Homo sapiens: one gene and its partners. Each later gene encodes a partner of the first gene's protein in a complex. Each region holds a gene or a part of one and is shown in the gene's direction. Other genes may lie near its edges.

Evidence for each region. The genes of interacting proteins can lie anywhere in the genome.
Region 2: SRRM1 (region 1) and SRRM2 share a complex: the UniProt entries of both Homo sapiens proteins name them as parts of the minor spliceosome.
Region 3: SRRM1 (region 1) and CWC27 share a complex: the UniProt entries of both Homo sapiens proteins name them as parts of the minor spliceosome.

Annotation. Positions count from the first base shown.
Region 1 is NC_000001.11:24,639,014-24,646,305, forward strand, and holds the start of SRRM1 (serine/arginine repetitive matrix protein 1), read left to right. Parts: upstream 1-4,288; 5' UTR 4,289-4,313; coding exon 4,314-4,334; intron 4,335-4,545; exon of another isoform or gene 4,546-4,719; intron 4,720-6,970; coding exon 6,971-7,060; intron 7,061-7,292. UniProt on the Homo sapiens protein: Part of pre- and post-splicing multiprotein mRNP complexes. As a component of the minor spliceosome, involved in the splicing of U12-type introns in pre-mRNAs. Involved in numerous pre-mRNA processing events.
Region 2 is NC_000016.10:2,748,655-2,755,644, forward strand, and holds the start of SRRM2 (serine/arginine repetitive matrix protein 2), read left to right. Parts: upstream 1-3,983; 5' UTR 3,984-4,192; intron 4,193-4,251; exon of another isoform or gene 4,252-4,402; coding exon of another isoform or gene 4,403-4,452; intron 4,453-6,990. UniProt on the Homo sapiens protein: Required for pre-mRNA splicing as component of the spliceosome. As a component of the minor spliceosome, involved in the splicing of U12-type introns in pre-mRNAs.
Region 3 is NC_000005.10:64,764,951-64,771,936, forward strand, and holds the start of CWC27 (spliceosome-associated protein CWC27 homolog), read left to right. Parts: upstream 1-3,979; 5' UTR 3,980-4,196; coding exon 4,197-4,238; intron 4,239-6,986. Other genes in the region: protein SREK1IP1, read right to left, coding at 3,555-3,567. UniProt on the Homo sapiens protein: As part of the spliceosome, plays a role in pre-mRNA splicing. Probable inactive PPIase with no peptidyl-prolyl cis-trans isomerase activity. As a component of the minor spliceosome, involved in the splicing of U12-type introns in pre-mRNAs.

The DNA of each region.
Region 1 (7,292 bases):
AAGAAAGAAAAGAAAAATAGGCCAGGCATGGTGGCTCACGACTATAACCCCAGCACTTTCGGAGGCTGAGGTGGAAGGCTCACTTGAGCCCAGGAGTTTATGACCAGCCTGGGCAATACAATAAAGCCCCCGTCTCTAAAAAATAATTTAAAAATTAGCTGGGTGTGGTGGCACACACCTGTAGTCCCAGCTACTCAGGGTGCTGAAGCAGGAAGATTGCTTGAGCTGGGGAAATTAAGGAGGCTGCAATGAGCTGTGATTGCATCACTGCACTCCAGCTTGGGTTACAGAGTGACCCTCTCTCCAAAAGAAAAGAAAGAAAAAGGTAAGACAGAGTGAGGGGATTGAGGGTGTCCTTTTTGGAAGGTTGTTCAGAAAAGGCTTGATGAAGAGGTGCCATTTGAATCATCTCTTAGTCATTTTAGGCTTACCAATATATAGACAAATAAATTGCCATTCGAAATCTAAATCTGTTCATAATCAGACAAGCATCTGTAGTTTATTGTGGCTGCAACTTAGAAGTAACGGATGAGGAGAGGGAGGCATAAGCTATTAAGAGAGGTGAAAAGGCAAGAGTTGGTTGTAGAGTGTGAGGAAGAGAGAAGAATCATGATAGAAAGAAAGGTGGGCTCATTCATTGAGAATGGGAAACCAGAAGGTTGAAGGCAAGTGGATGAAGATGAATTCAGTTTAGGGTATGTTGAGTGTGAGGTGCCTATGGGACATCCAAGTGAATAGGTGAGCAGGAAGTTGAAAATATAGGTCTGGAGCAGGCCTGTGCCTGAGATACACAGGTTTGAAATATGAAAGGTAATCAAAACCGAGAGGTCAGAGAGGGCACCTTTGTTGAGGGAAAAAGTAGTCAATGACAGAACTACCAGAAAAAACAACATTTATAGGATTGACAGCAAACAGACAGAGACAGTGAAGGAAGCCCAAAACAGAATGACTAATCAGAACCATAGAGAATAGTCAGGGAGATGTGGGGTGTTGTGATTTCATAGTTCCCATCTGGTCAAGTGGCTTGTTCTGTGGAGGCCTGTCACTTCCCTGTCTTTGGCCGTCTGACAAAGCCTTCATTCACTGAACAAATGTTTATTGAACCCATGCCATGTGTCACTTTTCTAGTGACACATGAATGAACAAAACAGTAAGCCCTGACTTTAGGGCACTTACATTCTAGTGTGGGGAACAGACAATAAACAAACATTAAAAACAGGTTAAACGGCCGGGCGCAGTGGCTCACACCTGTAATCCCAGCACTTTGGGAGGCCAAGGCAGGTATCCCTTGAGCTCATGAGTTCGAGACCAGCCTGGGCAACATGGCAAAACCCCATCTCTACAAAAAATACAAAAATTAGCTGGGAATGGTAGTGCGGGCCTGTAGTCCCAGCTACTCCAGAGGTTGAGGTGGGAGGATGGCTTAAAGCCAGGAGGCGGAGGCTGCAGTGAGCCAAGATCACGTGACTGCACTCCAGCCTGGGTGACAGAGCCAGGCCTTGCCTCAAAAAAAAAAAAAAAAAAAAAAAACAGGTTAAATGCATATTAGGTGATAAAAGCTATGAAAAAAAAAAAAAGAGTAACGGGCATCAGGATGTAGAGAGGATATCCGAGCAACTTCCAACAAGGCAGTCAGGTTAGGCTTCAGTGAGTGACCATCGAGTAAAAACTTTAAAGTAAAAACTTTGCCCAGGCCGGGCACGGTGGCTCACGCCTATAATCCCAGCACTTTAGGAGGCCAAGGCAGGTGGATCACGAGGTCAGGAGTCCCAGACCAGCCTGGCTAACATGGTGAAACCCCATCTCCACTAAAGATAAAAAAAGTAGCCGGACTTGGTGGCGGGCGTCTGTAATCCCAGCTCCCAATTTGGGAGGCTGAGGCAGGAGAATTCCTTGAAACTGAGAGGTGGAGGTTGCAGTGAGCCGAGATCCTGCCACTGCACTCCAACCTGGGCAGACAGAGCAAGACCCCATCTGCGGGGGGGCAGTGGGGACTTTAAGTTTGCCCAGTAGATATCCAGGAGTAGGTCAGCGTGGTGGCTCATGCCTGTAATCCCAGCAGTTTGGGAGGCCGAGGCGGGAGGATCAGTGAAGGTTGGGAGTTTGAGACCAGACTGGCCAACATGGCAAAACCCCATCTCTACTAAAAATACAATAATTAGCCGCGCGTGGTGGTGCGCACCTGTAGTCCCAGCTGCCAGGGAGGCTGAAGCAGGAGAATCGCTTGAACCCGGGAGGCAGAGGTTGTAGTGAGCCGAGATCGCGCCACTGCACTTCAGCCTGGGCGACAGAGCGAGACTCGGTCTCAAAAAAAAAAAAAAAAGATATCTGGAAGTAGAGCATTCTAGATTACATCAAAGACGAAATAGCGTGCATCAGGTAGGATTTTGGCTTTTGTTCTAACAAAAATGAGAGGCTGCTGGAAGGTTTTGAGAAAAGTGTCTGATTAAGGTTTTCTAACAGAACTACCCTGCCGGCTACACTTAGAGTAGATGCTGAGTGGCCAGGGTAGAAGCAGGAAGACCACTTAGGGGGTTAGCGCAGTTCAGGGAAGAGACGATGGTGCCCTGAACCACGATGACAGCAGGGAGGGTTTCTTGATGGTTTGAAAGCCGAGGTAAAGGAAAGGAGTCAAGAGTAACACACGCTTGCGTCCTACACCAAAGGAAAGCCACTGCGGTCAGCGGGAGCCAGGGAAGACCCTGGGAAGGGCAGGTGGTTTGTGGTTTTGGTGGATGGAGGGCGAAGGAATCAGGATTTCAACTTGGGGCACGTGGGACGGTCAAGAGAGAAGTCTGAGCTGGAGATGCAGGGATGTCTCCAGCACACAGCTAGTGTCTCCAGCCACGAGAGCAAACACACACATACTTTCAGGTGGGCTAAGTGCCATGGAAAAAAAGAGAAAAGGGAGGCGAGAGTGTGTGTGGGGGCGGGAACGATGCAAAAGATGGCCGGAGGAGGCCTTTCTGAGAAAGGGACGCCGGCTTTCCCTCCGAGAAAGGGAAGCGAGAAGGGCGAGAAGCGCTTGCGAAAAAGCTGGCAGAGTGGGGCCGGGCGCGGTGGCTCAGGCCTGAAGTCCCTGCACTTTGGGAGGCCAGGAGTTCGAGACCAGCAACAGAGCGAGACCCCCATCTCTGCTTTATTAGATAAAAATAACTTTTTTTTTTGAGACAGTCTCGCTCTGTCACCCAGGCTGGAGTGCAGTGGCGTGATCTCGGCTCACTGCAAGCTCCACCTCCCGGGTTAATGCCATTCTCCTGCCTCAGCCTCCCGAGTAGCTGGGACTACAGACGCCCGCCACCACGCCCAGCTAATTTTTTGTATTTTTAGTAGAGACGGGGTTTCACCGTGTTAGCCAGGATGGTCTCGATCTCCTGACCTCGTGATCCGCCCGCCTCGGCCTCCCAAAGTGCTGGGATTACAGGCGTGAGCCACCGCGCCCGGCCAATAATTTTCAAAATAAGAAAATCTAGCAGTGCGCATCCAACCCAAGGCCCTCGCAGCCAGAGCAGAGGCACCAGGGCGGCCAGGCGAGGCGCTGCGAGGAAGCTGGTGCTTCTCGGAGTCCGAGACCCGGGCTGGGGAGAGCCCGAGGCAGAGCCCGAGGACCACGGCTCTCTGGCGGGCGTCCTGCCCAGCGGCGTGATTACCGGGCCGCCGAAACCGAAACCCATCTACTGGACACTTCCAGCTTCCTCCAAAGGCTGAGCAAGCTGAGCTACAAGGCAGATTTCATGTCTGCTGCCAGGCTCGACCGCTTTACAGACAATCCTCTCTCGTCTGGTAAACGCGTAAAACCTACACAATCACAACTTTCACAACGAGAGGGAAGCCGCAGGCCTCTCGTCGGCGCACGGGCCGCCTCGCCCGCGTCACTCTGAGGTAACAGCCTTTCTCTTCAATCGCTTCATGGAACTCCAGGACGCCAAGCCTCTTCCACTACGGGTCGAAGGATGGGTCACGTCACATTGCGCGAACAAGGATGGTCACGCGCCACAAAAGGACTTGCAGGGCGGGGCGACTCGACGGCCTTCCCTTTTGCTCCCATTGGCTGCGGTCGTCAGGTTCGCCTCCTCCACTACCTACCGGGGAGTTTAGGGCCTGACAGAAGCCCGCCCCCGCTGGCGCTCGTGCGCACGCGTGGCGGGCTCTCGGCGCACTGAGCAGGCGCGGCCTCGTGTCGGCCGGAGGGGGCGGGCGCAACGACGCGCGCTGCGTCCCGGCGCTCGGCTTTCCCTCCGCCGGTCCCGCCCTCCGTCGCGGCGGCGCGGTGTACCCTGGGATAGGGAGCGATCTCCGAGCGAGGCGGCAAGATGGACGCGGGATTTTTCCGCGTAAGTAGAAGCGCCGGGCGCCGGGGTGAGGCCAGGGACTTCTCGGTAAGGCCTGGTAGGAGACCTTAGCTTGGCACAGGGTGGCCAGCGAGGGGAGCTTCGGAGATCTTAAGGATTCCTCCTAGAGCCGGCGCACCCCCCCCCCCCCCGTGCGCTGCGGCGGAGACCGGTGCGCCCCTGCGCAGTCTCCTCCTCCGGAATGGTCCCCCCTACGCGGCGGCGACGGTGGCCGGAAAATGGCGGCGGGAATGGGCCGGGATGGTACCTCGCTGCCCGCCTGCCTGGCGGGGCCTGCAGGCCGAGCGCCGTGCGTGCCGCCGGGTCCTGGGGCCTAGCGGAGCCGGAGGAGGAAGTCCCGAGTGGGAGGCCAAAGGAAAGCCCTAAGGTCACTGGTGGCGGCAGGGCAGGGAGAATATGGTTTGGGGGTACATCTTGGGAGAGCACCTTAGGGGAGGGAGAACAGGAAGAAGCATTCAGCGGCTTTTTTTGAAAAAGCGCCCTCCCCGCCCCCCAACGTCCTCCCTCCAGGTCCTAAGCCTTCGTGGAGGCGCCAGGTCAGGGTTCGCGGGAGCTCCCGCCCAATTTGATATCCCTTCAGGGAGGGGGACGTAGATAACTTGTTGGGACAATGTGAATTTAAGGTTCTGTGAGGGTAGAGGGTGCAACGAAAACTATGCGCGGGTATGGAGGCAGGTTGTGGAGTGATTCAATTCCTTCCCGCCCTCCACATCCCTCACCACCCGCCACCATCGTGTTTTACTCTTGGAGTCCGCTGGTGAAAGGTAACTCTTACCTAGGCTCTGCCAGCGTCGTCTGCCCATCGCCTGCAGGCAGGGAAGTTACTCCGTCGTAGTTGGTTCTCGGGGCCCACACTTTATCAGGCTCGTGCTGGAGCCTGTGTGTCCCATAGTCCCCTCCTGTAGGAAATTAGTACTAGATCAAGATCTAGAAGGGACACAGGACTAGAGTTGAGCACCATTGGTCTCTCAGGGCTTGCAAACTGTTAATGCAGAATGAAGTCGTATAGAAACTAGTTGATCTAAGCCAATATATCCGTTTTCTGAAATACACGTTAGCTCTTCTCTTTAGAGCATGTAATTTGCAGTTTGTGTGTTTTCAAAGGAAAAATTGGAAGGGAGGAGGGCCAGAACTTTAGTAAAAATATCTTTGGACACTCCGAATTGGACATTGAAATCCTTCTTTAATTGGCTTTAAATATGCCAACGAGTTTTTCGTCATGTTAGAATGTTATCCCCCAAGTATTTTACCTAAGAACAACCAGCTGTTCTTAGGCAAACAGTAAGATACTTATTTTGGAATGATAGTTTCAGATTAGCGTATCGAATTTGCAAACTGCTTATGAACTGTCCATTTTGTAATTTCCATCAAAGTGTTTTGTAGTAAATATTCAATATTTTCTGCAGTGCAAGTAGTATTTTGAAACAAGTGAAAGCCTTTTCTGACTTTTGTCAAAATATTTTCTGTGGAAAGGAGTCCAAATAAATAAAAGAGTAAGGTGATTGATGAGCAAATTTTAACATGAAGTTTGCTTGTGGTATTGGTAAAGGTCTGGGAGAGGGGCGAGTTTTTAGTACACAGCCTACAATTGCTTAAATACAAGAGTTAACTGGATTTAAGATCCAAGTTAAAATATTTTAGGGTCATTATCTAGTACCCTGCCAACCAGATGAACTATTTCAGGTAGTATAGAAGTTATATCTTCCATTCAATGAACTTCTTCCACATGCCAGATACTTTACATATGTTATTTCTGGTATGTACACAGCAACCCTGCAGAGTAGGTTTCTATACCTCTATTTTAGCAGGGAAGGAACTATCCTCAGAGAGGCTGGGTAACTTGGTTTACGATCTTACGGCTAAGTAGTGGCACAGTTTTTACCTTCTCAAACAAAATTTTTTTTGATCGCTTTCCAGGGGACTGTGGCCAACTCAGTGAACCAATCAGTACATTTCAGATGGCACAGCCAGTTATTTCCGTGTTTAATTGGGCCAGTAGGAATGACAAAATGAAAAGAATAATTAGTGATCACTCGATGATCTAAGGTAGTATTTGTAAGCTTTCATTTTTCCAGGTTCTTTGCTGAAATTGAGTTTATTTAGGTAACCCTGTCTTCTTCACTCATTCCAAGTTCCTAAAAGTTGTAGAAGACTAACAGCACAGTCCTGGGATGTTCTTTTTTCCTTTCACCCTGTTTGTATGCATTGCCACAGTAGTTTTGCAAGCATGCAACTGGCTTTCAAAAAAGAATGAAATTTCAAATACTTCAATGTGTTCTCATTTAAACAGAAAAGCCCTACGTATCTATTAGCATAGGAAAAGGTGTGAAAGGATACAAATCAAATCTAACATTGGATATGAGGAGGTGTTGGCTTTATGCTGTATACTGTTGTTTTAGGTTTGACTTATGATGAACATATACTTGATAATTTAAAAATCCAGTCAAGTTTTCCAAGTATCAGCTACATTGGGGAAGGAGTATGCATTTCTCATCTATGAAAACTAGTTTGGTATTGTGTTTACTTGGTTACCCTATTTTGGCTATAAAGGTCGTAGGTGATAAAAAGTAAGGATTTAACTTTGAACCCTTAGTTAAGATGTGGTTCTCTTCCTGCAGGGAACAAGTGCAGAACAGGATAATCGGTTCAGCAACAAACAGAAGAAACTACTGAAGCAGCTGAAATTTGCAGAATGCCTAGAAAAAAAGGTATTCTTCTGGATGAGACTGTTGTGCATCTTTATAGCACACTTACTTGACTCAAGTTCTGGGGTTGTTTTGGAGATGCATTGTAACTTGAATGCTAAGAAAAACATAATTGAACATTAACCACCTTTTAGCCACCACACGTGGCACAGCCATATAAGAATTAGCAGATTGTGGCTGGGCGAGGTGGCTCACGCCTGTAATCCCAGCACTTTGGGAGGCCGAGGCGGGCAAA
Region 2 (6,990 bases), on another chromosome or scaffold:
AAAAAAAAAAAAAGAAAGAAAATAAAATGAGTGCTTTTCTCTGTTTGTTTTTCAGAAATGGGAGGTGGTGGGGGGAGTCTCACTATGTTGCCCAGGGCTGGTCTTGAACTCCTGGGCCTCAAGCATCCCAAAGTGCTGGGATTACAGGTGTGAGCCACCACACCTGGCCCCAATTAGTGCTTTAAAAGCTCTCTAAACCCTTACATCACAAAGAATATCCCTCCTCCCCCTCCAGAAAAGAAAGGGGTGGCTGGACAGTATCGACCTCACCAGATGTGCTACACCAAGGCCAGAAAGAGCCGCTGAAGTGGCTTGGACATGGGCCATGCCAGCTGCACGTGGAAGGCCATTCCTCCCGGCACTCATTTCCAGTGTTTCATATCTGCTTGTCCTGGGTACAGGAACCAGGGCATGTTTCAGAGGTTCAGAGCCAAGTACTTTTGGGGTCTGGGTACTGCACAGAGAGGGCCCAGGCACTTGTTCTGCTTGCCGTGTGCCCCACCATGCCTGCGCTGAGGACCAGCCTCAGTCCATCCTGCCCAGAAGGCTGGGAGCACACATGGGGCCTGGAAGCCAGAAGGCCTCTCAAGAGACCCTGCTTGCAGCCCTGTGGGAGGGGTTGGATGGGGGCTGGGGTCTCCAGATAAAAAGGTAATTCGAGAAACCCTCCCAGGCAGCTGGGAGGTGGGAGGCTATGGCATTAACCCCAGGGATTGTCCTTCCTGAAGGTCTGGTCTCCCTCTGGAGGGCAGGATGCTTTTGCAGACATCATCCTCACCCCCCTACCCTGTTCCCATCCTCCCTAGCACCTGTCCTGGCTGGTAATTGTCTAGTTATTTGTAATGTAAGCTCCAGGAAGCCAGTGTGCAAATGGGAGGTGCTCCACTCACCAAAGGCTTCCCAGTCTTGGGCCCCAGGCCAGGGGGGTCTGGAGGAAGGCTTGCACCACAGGGTCCTCCACCAGGCCATGGAACTGGAAGCTGAAGGCCCACACAAGGCCACTGCCTGGGAGAACAAGCATAGGCAAGTGTGCCCGTCATGGACTGTCACAGAGCGGAGGGAAAAGAGGCCACGGGAAGGACCAGCCTTGGAAGGCCCAACAAAGGAGTTGTGATGTCAACCTGAGGGTGTCTGGAAGAGTTTTAAGCAGTTCAGAAGTTTGCATTTTAGGAACATCACTCCGAGGTGACAGCCGCTAGGATGTCAGCCATGGCTGTCTCTGGGGGTGGTGCCCCTGTGTGCTTTTTTTCTTTTTGCTGATTTGTATATTTCCTGCAGTGAATGTGGTTTACCTGTGCATGTCACTTTCCTAGGGCTGCCATAAGTCACCACGAACTTGGTGGCTTCAAACCACAGAAGTGGGTTCCCCTACAGCTCTGGAGGCCAGAAAGTGGAGACCAAGGTGTGGACAGGGTTGTGCCTCCTCCAAAGGCTCTGGGAGAGGATCTGCAGGGCCTCTCCCAGCTTCTGGCTCCTCCTGGAGATCCCTGGCATGGGCACCGCTCCGAATCTCTGCCTGGGTCTCCTACGGCCTCTTCCCCCGGGTGCCTGTGTCCTCTTGTCTTCTTGTAAGGATGTCAGTCATTGGATTTACGGCCTACCCTAAATTCATGATGATTTCATCTTCAGATCTTTAACTCAATTACATCTGCAAAATCTCTTATTCCAAATAAGGTCACCTTCCGAATGTCTAGGTGGTTGTGAAGTTTTGGGGCACCACCGTCCACCACACTACAGTGAATAAAAAAATAAAGTTTAAAGGGAAACTAAAAAATCATTCTAGGGCTGGGTGCCATGGCTCACACCTGTAATCCCAGCACTTTGGGAGGTTAAGGGGGGAGGACAGTTTGAGCCCAGGAGTTCAAGACCAGCCTGGGCAACACAGGGAGACACAATCTCTACAAAAAACTCCACCTCTACTAAAAATAAAAAAATGAGCTGGGTGGTGGCGTGCGCCTGTAATCCCAGCTACTTGGGAGGCTGAGGTACAAGAATTGTAGTGCGTGGAGATCGTGCCACTGCACTCCAGCCCGGGGTTAGGAGTGAGACTCTGTCCCAAAAAAATAAAATAGACAAAAGACACGAAGAGAAATTTCTCCAAAGATGTACAAACGGCCAACAAGCACATCAAAAGATTCTCAGCATCATCAGTCATTAGGGTACTGCAAACCATGTTTTGTCACTATTCACGGGCATTAAATGTGCTGACTCACGCACAAAACATTCCATAAAGAATATCAGTGGGGGTACAGGAAAGGGTCTCACTGGAGGTGCTGGGGTCTTTAACCAGAAAGGCAAAGCCTTTGCCACTTTACTATGCCACTCCAGAGTTGCGGCCGGCTTACAGAAGCACCGTCCATAGATGCAGAGTTCAGACACTCCAATCTGCGATCAGAGCTCCTGCAGGAGATGGGGGTGGTGGGGGGGAGGGTCTCCCGGCTCTAGCATCTGAGATAAGTACATCCTCCCACGGGCAAGTGAAAAACAAATCTTAAAGCCGGATACGGGCCGGGCGTGGTGGCTCACGCCTGTAATATCAGCACTTTGGGAGGCTGAGGTGGGCAGATCACCTGAGGTCAGGAAATCGAGACCAGCCTGACCAATATAGTGAAGCCCCGTCTTTACTAAAAATACAAAAATTAGCCAGGCGTGGTGGCACACGCCTGTAATCCCAGCTACTCGGAAGACTGAGACACGAGAATCACTTCAACCTGAGAGACAGGTTGCAGTGAGCCGACAACACACCATTGCACTCCAGCCTGGGTGACAAGTGCGAAACCACGTGAAAAAAGAAAGAACAACAACAACAACAAAAAACAAGGGCCAGATAGGGTGTCATGCACGGGTAGTCCCAGCTACTTGGGAGGCTGAGGTCGGAGGATCGCTTGAGCCCCAAATTCGAGAACAGCCTGGGCAAAACCCTGCCTCTTAAAAACACCCCCAAATCGTAATAACAAATATAAATCCTTGCACTCAAATGGACAGTTCATTACGTGGTACCGCGTCCTGTTGCGGATCAAGGCCACCTGAGTTGGTTAGGACAGCTAAGCGGGACGTCCAGGGCTGCTCGCCAGCGGTGGGTCTAGATATGAACTTGTGCTTGAGCAGCCCAGCGTCTTACAACTCTGCTGTGAGGACGGCTGGCTGATTATCAGGCCCAGAATCACGGGCTTAGAAACATTAACAGGAAGTACGGTACCGAAAAGTGGAAACTTTAAGGTGCTTATTATTTTCCTCCTGCCTTGTTCCTGTATGTGCCGCTTCACCGGTATCACGTCCTGGGTCTGGTGGGACCCCGGCCTGGCTGCCCTACCGGAAGCTAAGAAAACTCCTCCCCCAGGGGTGGCCGTCGGGCCTCAGCCCGGTCTACAGCGGGAGAACGTGGCCCATGCTACGGGTAACTGGTTGGGCCCCTGGTGCAGGTCTAGGGCCTGCAGCCAGGCTCGGGGCCTCCGGGGGTGCCCGCTGGCTGGGGTCTGAGGCGGCTTCTCTCGGGTACGGGAAGGCGGACTGCTGTGCAGCTGCGGGCTCGCTCGGGAAACCCAAAGTCACACGAAAGCGGCAGCACCACCGCGGCTGGGATATCGTCTCCCAACATGGGGAGACAAAATGGCCGCCACGCCCCGAGCCGAAATTACATCCGGGCTCCGCGACACGCCCGAACCACAACTCCCAGAATGCTCTGCATCGACAGCGGGAGACGAGACGCGCTCGGGCGTCGCTTTGCTGCCGCTAGGCCCTGTGCTCCTCCCCGCAGCGGAAGGCCTACGAATACGCGGTGTCTTACGTCGCTTCCTCCGTTCTTCGTTGCACTGGCCAACGGGACGCTTAGTCTTTCGGCAACGGGGTGAAACCTTCCTTGTGCCTGAAAAAACGGTACTTCGCGGTGTGGCTTCGGCGCCTGCGCAAAAGGCCGCGGGGCGCACTCCAGTTCCCGGCAGGCCCCGCGACGCGCGTTTGCGTGCTGACGCACGCAGTTAGTCGTGCTGACGTGCAGCGCGGCCCAGGCGGGGTGCGAGTGGCGCAGTTGGAGCCCGTTGCGGCCCCTGAGGAAGCGAGGAGGCGTCGGCGTCGGCTGAGGCGGGCGGACCGGCGAGGCGAGGCGGCGGCCCCAGGCCCGAGGGACTCGGGAGCTCGAGCAGCGGCGGCGGCAAGACCTCTCCCCCTCGGAGGCGGCGGGCGGAGGCGGCGGGTGAGAGGGTGAGGGAGCCAGCGAGCCGGGTGGGGGAGGGGCGGCGGCCCCGGCGCGAGGCCAAAGCGCGCGGAGAACTGCCCAGGCCGCCGAGCTCCTCCGCGCGCACGCGCGCTCGACGCCCTTCGCTGGCGCGGACGCCCTCGCCTCCCTTCCCCCTTCCCGCCGTTCCTGTCGCGCGCGGGCTTCACCCCCCCCCGCCCCTCCCCCATGACAACGGCGTTCGCAGCCGCCTGTACTCGGGTTCGCGAGCGCCCTTGGTGAGGGGGGAGGGCGCGCGCCTCGGCTTCACTCCTCCCCCCAACATGTGCCGCCGAGGTGGCCTTCCTGCAGCTGCCGTTTTCGGCCCTTAAGTGGCGGGGAAGGGGCGGCGGCGGGGGGCTTGCTCCTGGACCCTTGCCCCCGGTTCCAGATCTCCTTTCCTCGGGCTTCTCTTCGGCGTTGGGCTGCCCGTGTCGGGGGCCTCCCAGACTGCGGGACGCCGCGCAGCCCCCTCCCCCATTCCGCAAGGCCGAAAATAGGCCCCCGGCGCTGCGGGGAGGGCCTTGAACTTCGTGGGCCGGATTTAAATGGTTTAGGATTCCCGGCTATCAGCCTTTGAGTTGTTAGTGGCGGGGAGAAACCCCAAATCTTAAAAACTGTGAAGAAAGTGAACGTGTTCAGTTTACATTTGTAAGGTAGACCGTGCGTTCCCTTTTTACACTTTTTCAACGTCTCCCGAGAATTCGTGTTCAAACTAAGGAGGCTTTTGGAGACCTTCGTTGGGAAGAAAACGCCAGACTCATATATAAGTTTTCTGGTTGGTTTCAGGCGTTCTTTGGCACACAGCTCTTCTGAAGCTTGGTTTCCACTCGGCTTCAGTTAGGACGAATCTGGATCAGAATTTCAGAGTGTTGTGTTGTCTTTCATCCTAAGTGCGTGGGCTTAGGGCTCTTCTAAAGCTACTATTTTAGCTTTCTGGGTTCTTTGTGTCCACTCAGCCGCTCTGGAGCGCCCCGGTGCTGAGCTGGCTGTGCTTGCTGATGTCCATTTTTTTCGACAACCCTTGTCTCCCCTTTTTCTCCCCTTTTGGTACCGTTTTCTTTTTTGCATATTTTACTGTTGAATTCAAATATATCTTTCTACTTCATTGTTAGCTTACCACTCGGATAATTTCCCAACAGAAAAGGGTGTTTTTGTCTTCCTTTGTACTTTTTACTTTCTGCTTTTAACTTGGGTAACTTTTGCATATCCACTGTCTATGGCCCCCACTTTAAGAGTTTTGTAATATCGTTTGGTTTGGTGATTTGTGTGTGGTGTTGATCTTCCTACTTTCTGTGTCTTAACACACCCCTTAGATGCCGTGGGGTCGTCGTCTTTTTTTGTGGGGTGGACTAGGTGGCTCATTCCCTAAAAGTTCTCCGAAACATTGTGACCTAATATCCTTTGCTTAGCACCTACTGGTTTTTCTTTTTTTTTTTTTTCCGAGACGGAGTCTAGCTCTGTTGGCAGGCCGGAGTGCAGTGGCGCGATCTCGGCTCACTGCAACCTTCCGCCTCCCGGGTTCAAGCGATTCTCCTGCTTCAGCCTCTGGAGTTGCTGAGATTACAGGCAATCGCCGCCGCCCAGCTAATTTTTGTATTTTTGGTAGAGATGGAGTTTCACCGTGTTGGCCAGGCTGGTGTCAATCTCCTGATCTGGTGATCCGCCCACCTCGGCCTCCCAAAGTGCAGGTGTTACAGGCGTGAGCCACCGTACCCGGCCTGGTTTTCCTTTCTTAAGGAGTGGGGGGATTTTTGTGTGAGGTGGTATGGAAGTGTGGGTGAATGGTTAAGCTGAAGAATTAAGTGCAGGTCAAAAACATGCTGCAGGGGAAGCAGAAATTAAGTGGGGTAGGGGAGAGGCGAAGAAGGACCTAGTTTTAAACCGTGAGGAGGATTGGTACTAGAAGATGAAAATGAGGATTGGGGTGTAGAGAAATTGATTTTTTGAGCCATACAGTTTTTCATTTTTTCCTGGATTTCTGCTTGCCTTATCCAGGTTTAGCCTCTTCTGTCACCTTCTGCTTTCAATATTGGGTCTGCTACTGGGCTTGGGTAGGGACCCATCCTTAGGCGCATGCGCTAGTATATTTTTCCAAACATTTGTATGATGCTTCTTCATTCTGGAATTTTCTAAATGCATCCTTCCCTTCTATCCAGTTCTTTTACATCTTTGATTACTCTCTCCGCTTTACGTATTCCTTAGGGTTTTTTCTTAGTAGTATTTTCTCATATATGCATGTTCTAGGAAACTATCTTGGAGAGGATGAGGGTGAGAAAGAGAGTATATGTAATAGGAGAAAGGAATAGAGTATGTGTAGCCAAGGAATCTAACCAGGAAAGCTGGGACTTGAGAATTTTTCAGAATCACGTTAGGGTTGGGACAAGTTGAAAGGCTAGAACCTGGGAGGAGGCATGGGGTTAACACAGGAGAGAAGGAAGAGGCAGGGCTGAGAGAGAAAAACTAGGAAGTGCTATCCAGGGGATTGGTGGGGAAAGCCAACGGTTGGACATTAATGAAAGTGGGGTGTAGAGAGGGTTTCTACATAGATTTAGGGCAAGGTATATGGAGAAGGTATGGGAACGGTTGGAACAGAGGAGGCTGGTTTGATGTGTTTAAATAGAGCAGAGTTGAAAACAGGTAATATTTGACAGCTGGCAAGACAGGGAGGAACTGCAAATTGTTGTAAATCCTATTGAGAGGAAGGAAATTGAAGGAATAAAATATCAGGATAGTTGATAGGATCTTTAAATATTTGGAATCAAGGAAATGGCCCT
Region 3 (6,986 bases), on another chromosome or scaffold:
CTTGGCCACAGAAAAATTCCCTACCTTGGCTATAGGGCTTCAGTGAAGGAGATAATAAGAAAACAGTTTTGTGCCAATTACATCAGTAACATACGTTGCCACTTGTGCCAGTTCAGCTCTTCATGGAGAGTGGTGAATCACTGACATGAATGTTGGAGGTAATTTCAACAACTGTGAATGGGAAAAGCAGTTTTTTCAAAGAAAGTAAATTTCACTGAAACCTGTGATCAAATATTATTTCTATAATAACAACTAAGAGTAAGATTTTCCTAAATGCCTACATTTCATTGCATTACCTACATAATGGTATACGCTTATACACAATGCTATGGAAACACGGGTGAAGCACATGATCATAAAACAGACAAGGCTGATTTTTATGTGTGGTTTGCAGAAAGCAGCCTTGTTACTTTATAATCATACCTTGTCATAATCACTAGCAGGACCACCCCAAGAAATGCCAAACTGAATCCATTAAACCTAAAATTAAAGAGCCTAACATAATACTTGTCCTCCTTGATGATAACCTTGAAAAGTTTAGATTAGCCCTATTTTCCTTTAATACCCTGTCTGGATCGATCATCTAAGAAATTATCTTACGATTTTCTGTATCTGTATTTTCTAATGACACTTGCATTGTACTTTTACAGCACTGTCACACCTATTATCTCAATTATTGCTGGGTTTAAACAGTTTATAGCTTGCCATCTAGCTTAATGGCACAATTTAACATTATTATACTTTGAAGCACTATTTTGAATTGAAAGAAGGTTAACATATCTATAACACTGGTCTAAGTTTAAGAGAATTTTAATGAGGCCTTAAAAAATCACTTTTGTCCCCTTTCTTAAGTAGCACATTTTCATGTACTGCTTAAAGTTTTATGAGGGCACAGACTATGACACTGTGTCCTCCAGTGTGCCCATATCACACAGGTGCCCAAAAGGCTTGCTCAAGTAATGAAATGAGCAGTGATAACAGGTCAACTTTGGGTGCAGCTGTGTGGTATAAAGATCACTAGAGCTGACTCGGCCTATCAGGATGCCTAGGCAATCTACTGTGTAGGTTTATCTTTCGCTGCTGGCCTCTTAGATGTTGACCAGGCTTCAGCCACAGACCTTCCCTTCACATTCTACACACCATCTAAGCAGAGTGCTCCACTCCCATAGCCTTACCTCCTATTATGTGTGTGGGTAACACCCAAATCATTGTCTTTGACTCTGACTTCTTTCCTAAGCTACAAATTATATCTCTTACTATTAACTATTTGCATTCCTATGTCTGACTAACCTCAACACAACAAGCCCCAGACTGGATGTCATCATCATCCCCTTAACCCCTGCCCCTTGTGAGGTGTTGTCATGTCAGTAAACAGCCCCACCCAATTGCTTAACAGTAAAACCCAGGTAAACCTCATTTCCTCTTTTACCTACCCACACTGAATCAATCACCAACTCCTAGTGACTCTACCACCAAAAATGTATCTTCAATTTATCCACTTCTCTCCTTACCTATTGAGACCACATCTCAGCCACACATCATTATAACTCACCAGAATTACTCCTAACTGGTAAACTTTGTCTCCAATCTACTTTCTAGCCAGAATTATCTTTCCAAAATGTGAATCTGCTTTAAAATCCTTAAATGGCTTCCTGCCATCTGTAGGATAATGCCAAACCTCTTGTCATGGCCTACAGGTCCTTAAAGAGCTGGAAACTACCTTGTAAGTTATCCTATACGATGGCAAAATGAATGAAGTACACAGTCTAGAGGAACCAGACTGACTTCTTGCTTTCCAGCTGTCTCATAATAGGCAAATTACTTGATTTCTTTGTCCCTCAGTGTCCTCATCTGTAAAATGGGAATATTAATACTCATTTCACAGTGCAGTTGTGAATATTAAATGAGATAGAATACAATGTTTGATATAGTATCTGACATATTTGACTTATAAATATTAGTCAATATTAGCTACAGTTACTATCTACTTAATTTCTCACTTACCTCCCATTTGTATTTGAGTTCTATCCACAGAAAACATCTTTCATTCTGACATATTTGACACATAAATATTAGTCAATATTAGCTACAGCTACTACCTCTGTACTTAATTTCTCACTTATCTCCCATCTGTATTTGAGTTCCATCCATAGAAAACATCTTTCATTTCCTCTTTTCACATATTTCCTCTTCCTTTACGTATCCAGTTCCTCCGACTGCAGTCTCCTCTCCCTTCAAGCCACCCCTCCTACAATTCAGATCTCCTCCTAAGTGCTACCTCCTTTGGAAAGTCCTTCTGCCCATCCTGTATGTGTTTGGTGCCCTTACTTTGTGCTAAGGTCTTGTATTTTCCTTGCCATGGCACTTGTCCCACTTTCTGTAAATTTCTCTCTCTTCACTGCTAAATTCTAAGTTCTGTGTGAAGCGTAACCATGTCTACCTTGCTCACCACTGTATTTCCAATGCCCAGTACCAGTGCCTGGCACACAGTAGGCTTAATAAAGAGTGTACATTTCCTCTCTCACAGCTCCAGATGTACTCCTCCGCAAACTTCAGTTAGTACAAAAGCACAGTGTTCCAATAACAGCTATCTGTAGAAGGAGGTTCAAAAAGGCTGCCACAGAATAAAGAACCTGGTCAAATAATACTGGGAAGTGCAGGTTTAAACAAAGTTAGGGTTCTGAACCATAGTAATTCTATAGTTCATAGTAATTCTATAGCAATTCATAGTATTCTATTCTAATAGAATAGAATCTTTTCTATTACTAAAGTGCGCTGGGAATTTCCAAGTTGGGAGGTGGGGTGGAGAAGTGTGTATTTCTGAAAATGTCTCCTGCAATCAGTGTTCTGCAGTGGCAAAGCTGGTTTGAGGAGATGCTTTCCGCTACTAGAACTTCCAAGTAAGCTGGTAGTTGAGGACGAGAAAATCTTTTAAGTAATTATTCTGCAGAGTTCACCGTTTTTAGGTCAGTAACTTCTGGACATAGAATTTGAGAGTTAGAAGAAATCTTATATATAATTCAACAAAGCTCCTTCTTTTTATAAGGAAACTGAGGCCCAGAAGCACAAAGCGACCAATCTATGGCCACGGAGCAGCTACATACAACAGGAAGAGCTAGGAGTAGAACCCGCACACCCGGTGGGTCCTAGCGACTTCTAAGACAAACGATGCCTCCGGTTACCTGGGTCGGCCAAGTGTTCCCACTTCAAGTTTTAGTTTTAAGCCATACCACAGTTAAGGTAGTTTTTCTCGGCCGCTTGCCCCCTTAGGCCTACAGTTACAGTCTCTCCCTCCTCCCTCCCTTCCACAATACACTTTCCCTGTAATCCCAAGCAGCTGGGGCTTGGCTCCTGGGGGGAAGATAGTTATTTTCTTTCCTTCAGAGTTTATGTTTGGAGTGTAAACTTTTTCATGTAAACAAAACAAACCTGTGAATTTTAAGGCCTCCGCCTAAATCCCCATGGGCGCTGCTCCGTACACGCCGCACCCTACCCTACCCTCCCTTGCGCTCCCTTCGGAGCTCGGACGCAGAGGCCCTGTAATTGCTCCTTACCTGGGACTGCCATGACGGTGGTAAGAGGGGTAACTCGAGCCTCTGGCTTTCGAAAAGGCGCTTGCTTCCCGCCAGCTGTGAGAACAAGGCACAGTCAAAGCGGCGTTTTCCTTCCCCCAGCGCAGCAGCACCCTCGCTACGGTCGGGAAGGGCCTGTACGCCTCTAGCGACGGCAGAACCAGTAGATGCGGATGCAGTTTCCGGACGAGTCATATTGCAGAAGACACATGGTCCGAACCATTACTGATAGTTTTGGAGGGGGAGTTAGTTTGATCTGCACACGAGAGTAGTGTAAACACCGCCAACACTTATGAAGTGTCCCTTCTAATATTGTAATACAAATAACATAAATAACATTAAGCTATGGTAACTTTACGGACTTTTCTCGTTCCCTGGAGTACATTGGAATAACCCTTCTCAGGGTTAGCGGTGCTCGGGTCCGGTAACAACATGGCGGCGTCCGTGAGGGGCTCCTTTGGGCAGGGGTAGTGTTTGGTGTCCCTGTCTTGCGTGATATTGACAAACTGAAGCTTTCCTGCACCACTGGACTTAAGGAAGAGTGTACTCGTAGGCGGACAGCTTTAGTGGCCGGCCGGCCGCTCTCATCCCCCGTAAGGAGCAGAGTCCTTTGTACTGACCAAGATGAGCAACATCTACATCCAGGAGCCTCCCACGAATGGGAAGGTGAGAGCCTCATCTAGGGAACTTGGGGTCCTGGGATCCCCAAAGTGAGATTTCCCGGATTTGGGGTGGGGAGTGGGTTTCAGGATCTCGTGGTAGGAAGAGACCACGAGAAGTGTTGTCTTTACTCCTGCATGTGGACAATGTTGCATCGAAACACTGATGTTGGTACTTTTCAGGATGTACTTGAAGAAGTCAAGTGGAGATTTCTCTACCTACCAGCATTCCGGTCCTATTTAATGCTTTAACCCAACTCATGCAGCCGATTTCTGGGGTCTTAGGTTTTTAAACAGACATTTTTGAGTTTGATATATTCTTTGCTTAACTAAGGTCATTCATTCTCCATTTCTTCTACAATCATTAATTGAACGCCTGCGAGGCACTGGGCACTGTACTAGGCGCCGGAGATACAAAGATGGATGGGTAAGGTAGTTGTTTTCCCGGAAAAGCTTATAGTTTAGTTTGTGAGACAGACAGGTAAACAAAAGCCTGTATGTCTGATAAGCGTGCTTGTGGAGAAGAGACCAGGTTGCTATGGCGGTACTGAGTAGTGAACAACTGGGGAAGTTAGGAAAAGCCTCATGGAAAAGATATCTTTTGAGCTGGTTTTAAAACCTGAGATGACTGTCAGTCAGAGAAAGTGGGAAATGGGGACTATTACCACATTAGAATGGGGAAAGGTTTCTCTGATTGATTTGATGGCTAATGTATGCCAATTCCCATCCAAGATGTTTGTATGCTGTACAAGGCAGAAGAGTCTGTTGTGGAATAAGTGTCACCTGAATTCTTAAATTGAGACCTAGCTTATATCACATATGAAATTTGATGAATCAGCATATTGGAGAAAATGAGATTGGAAGTATATAGTTGAATTAAGATAAGCTAAATTTACACAACATACCATCCTGTTTGTTACATGATTGCATCATAAATAATTTATACAGTCTTTTATTCATTGACATTTGATAATGTAATGAGAGCAATTTAAAAGTGAAACCAAAAATGCTGTAATTCCCAGCAAAAATGTAATGGATATTTTATGGGCAGACCAATTCTTTCAATTCTTTGTTTGAACTTCTCCTGGGCATTGTAGATTAGTATGTCCATCCCACCCCTCACCTATCTTATTTAATATCAATGTGAAAACCCAAAATACCTACCTCCTCCTATTTCCAAATGTTTCTTGAGGGCAATATCACCCCCAGTTAATAAACACTGGTAGAGATTGAATAGATTTACCATCCTGCCAGACAGGGCCTTCACACTTGCTGTTCCTCTGTCTAATCAAGTGTTGACCTTAGCAAAGAGCCCTTTCTTATCTACTTTCTATGAAATAGCAAACTTCAATCATGCCTTGCATCCCAGCAGTCTCTGGCCCCCTTAACCTTTTTAGTTTTTTTCATGGTATTTATTAATTATTTAGTATTACTGTATCCTTCCTCCTACCTTCCCCCTATAGAATGTAAGGAACATAAGGGCAGAGACAAGCATCTGGAACAGTACTTGATACATGATAGAAGGAGTTCAGATAGGTATTGAATAAATGAATGGATGGATGAATTAATACTATATTTTTCTTAGTTTTTGAGAAGTATTAAGCATCAGTGAGTTTGAGGTTATACTGCTGGTCAAGGACAGACTTAATTGCTTTATTCTAAAGCAAGATTTGACATGGTCATATAGATGAAAAGCTTTAACAAGGATACATTCCTGAATAGATTATTCATTCAACAAATAATGATTGAGCAAATCAATTGCCAGGCTCTATGCTAGGTTTTAGGGAGACAATGGAAAGAAAACACAGCATTGACTCAGTTGTCATGAGTTAGTTGAGTGAAGTATACATTGACTGAATAATCATGCAAATAAATGTTTAATTACAAAATGTGATAAATACTATCTTCTGAACAGAAATAGGCTGAATGATAACATAAGGGCCCAAGTTTTCATCCAAAAACAGCTTGGGACTTTTTCCAGCATAAGGCTCATCAAAGATATTAAAGCTTCTAAGTTCTGTAAGGTTAAGAGTGTGGACAAAAATTTGGTCTGTGAAGAATTTGAAGCACATGTAATAAGTCTGTTCAACGAATGTTTATTGCCTTTACTATCTAATGGTACATTAGGTGCTGAAAGCGTACAGAGACATTCAGAGTAAATGGGACAAAATTCCTCCCTTCAAAGAACTTAGTATCAGCTTGGGAAGTAATTGATACATGATACCAGTGCTTGGTCCCTGGTTGTCCATAAATGTTCTGTGTTTTGCTGTAACCCTAGCCCCTGAAGATGAGGCAAAGAAATGTAGTACTTGACAGAAAGTTTTTAAGCATAAGAGGTAATTCCCTGAAGATGAAATTTCCACATATTATGATCACTTATTCTAAATTGTGTCTGGCTTCTTCACTTAGTGTAATGTTGCTTTCAAATGATAGGGGTCTGTCTTCCTGTTGTACACACTTAGTTTTTAAATATCTTGAAAATCAAAATGGCTTTATAAGTATATTTGCATATATGTTTATAAGAAACATGATATTATCAAGGTATTAATTGGGAATTTTAAGAGAAAGAGCCAAGGAGGCCTACAAAGTAGTGATGACCAAAGAGAATGTATGGCCAGAGGAGGAAGGAGCCATATACCTTCTTTATTAATTCAGTAGCTTATTAATGAAAAGATTAAGAAACCCTGGTGAGCAAAGTGGCCCGATTATATATGCATTCTTTTTACTAGGTGTAAGTTGCCTGTGGCCAAAAAAC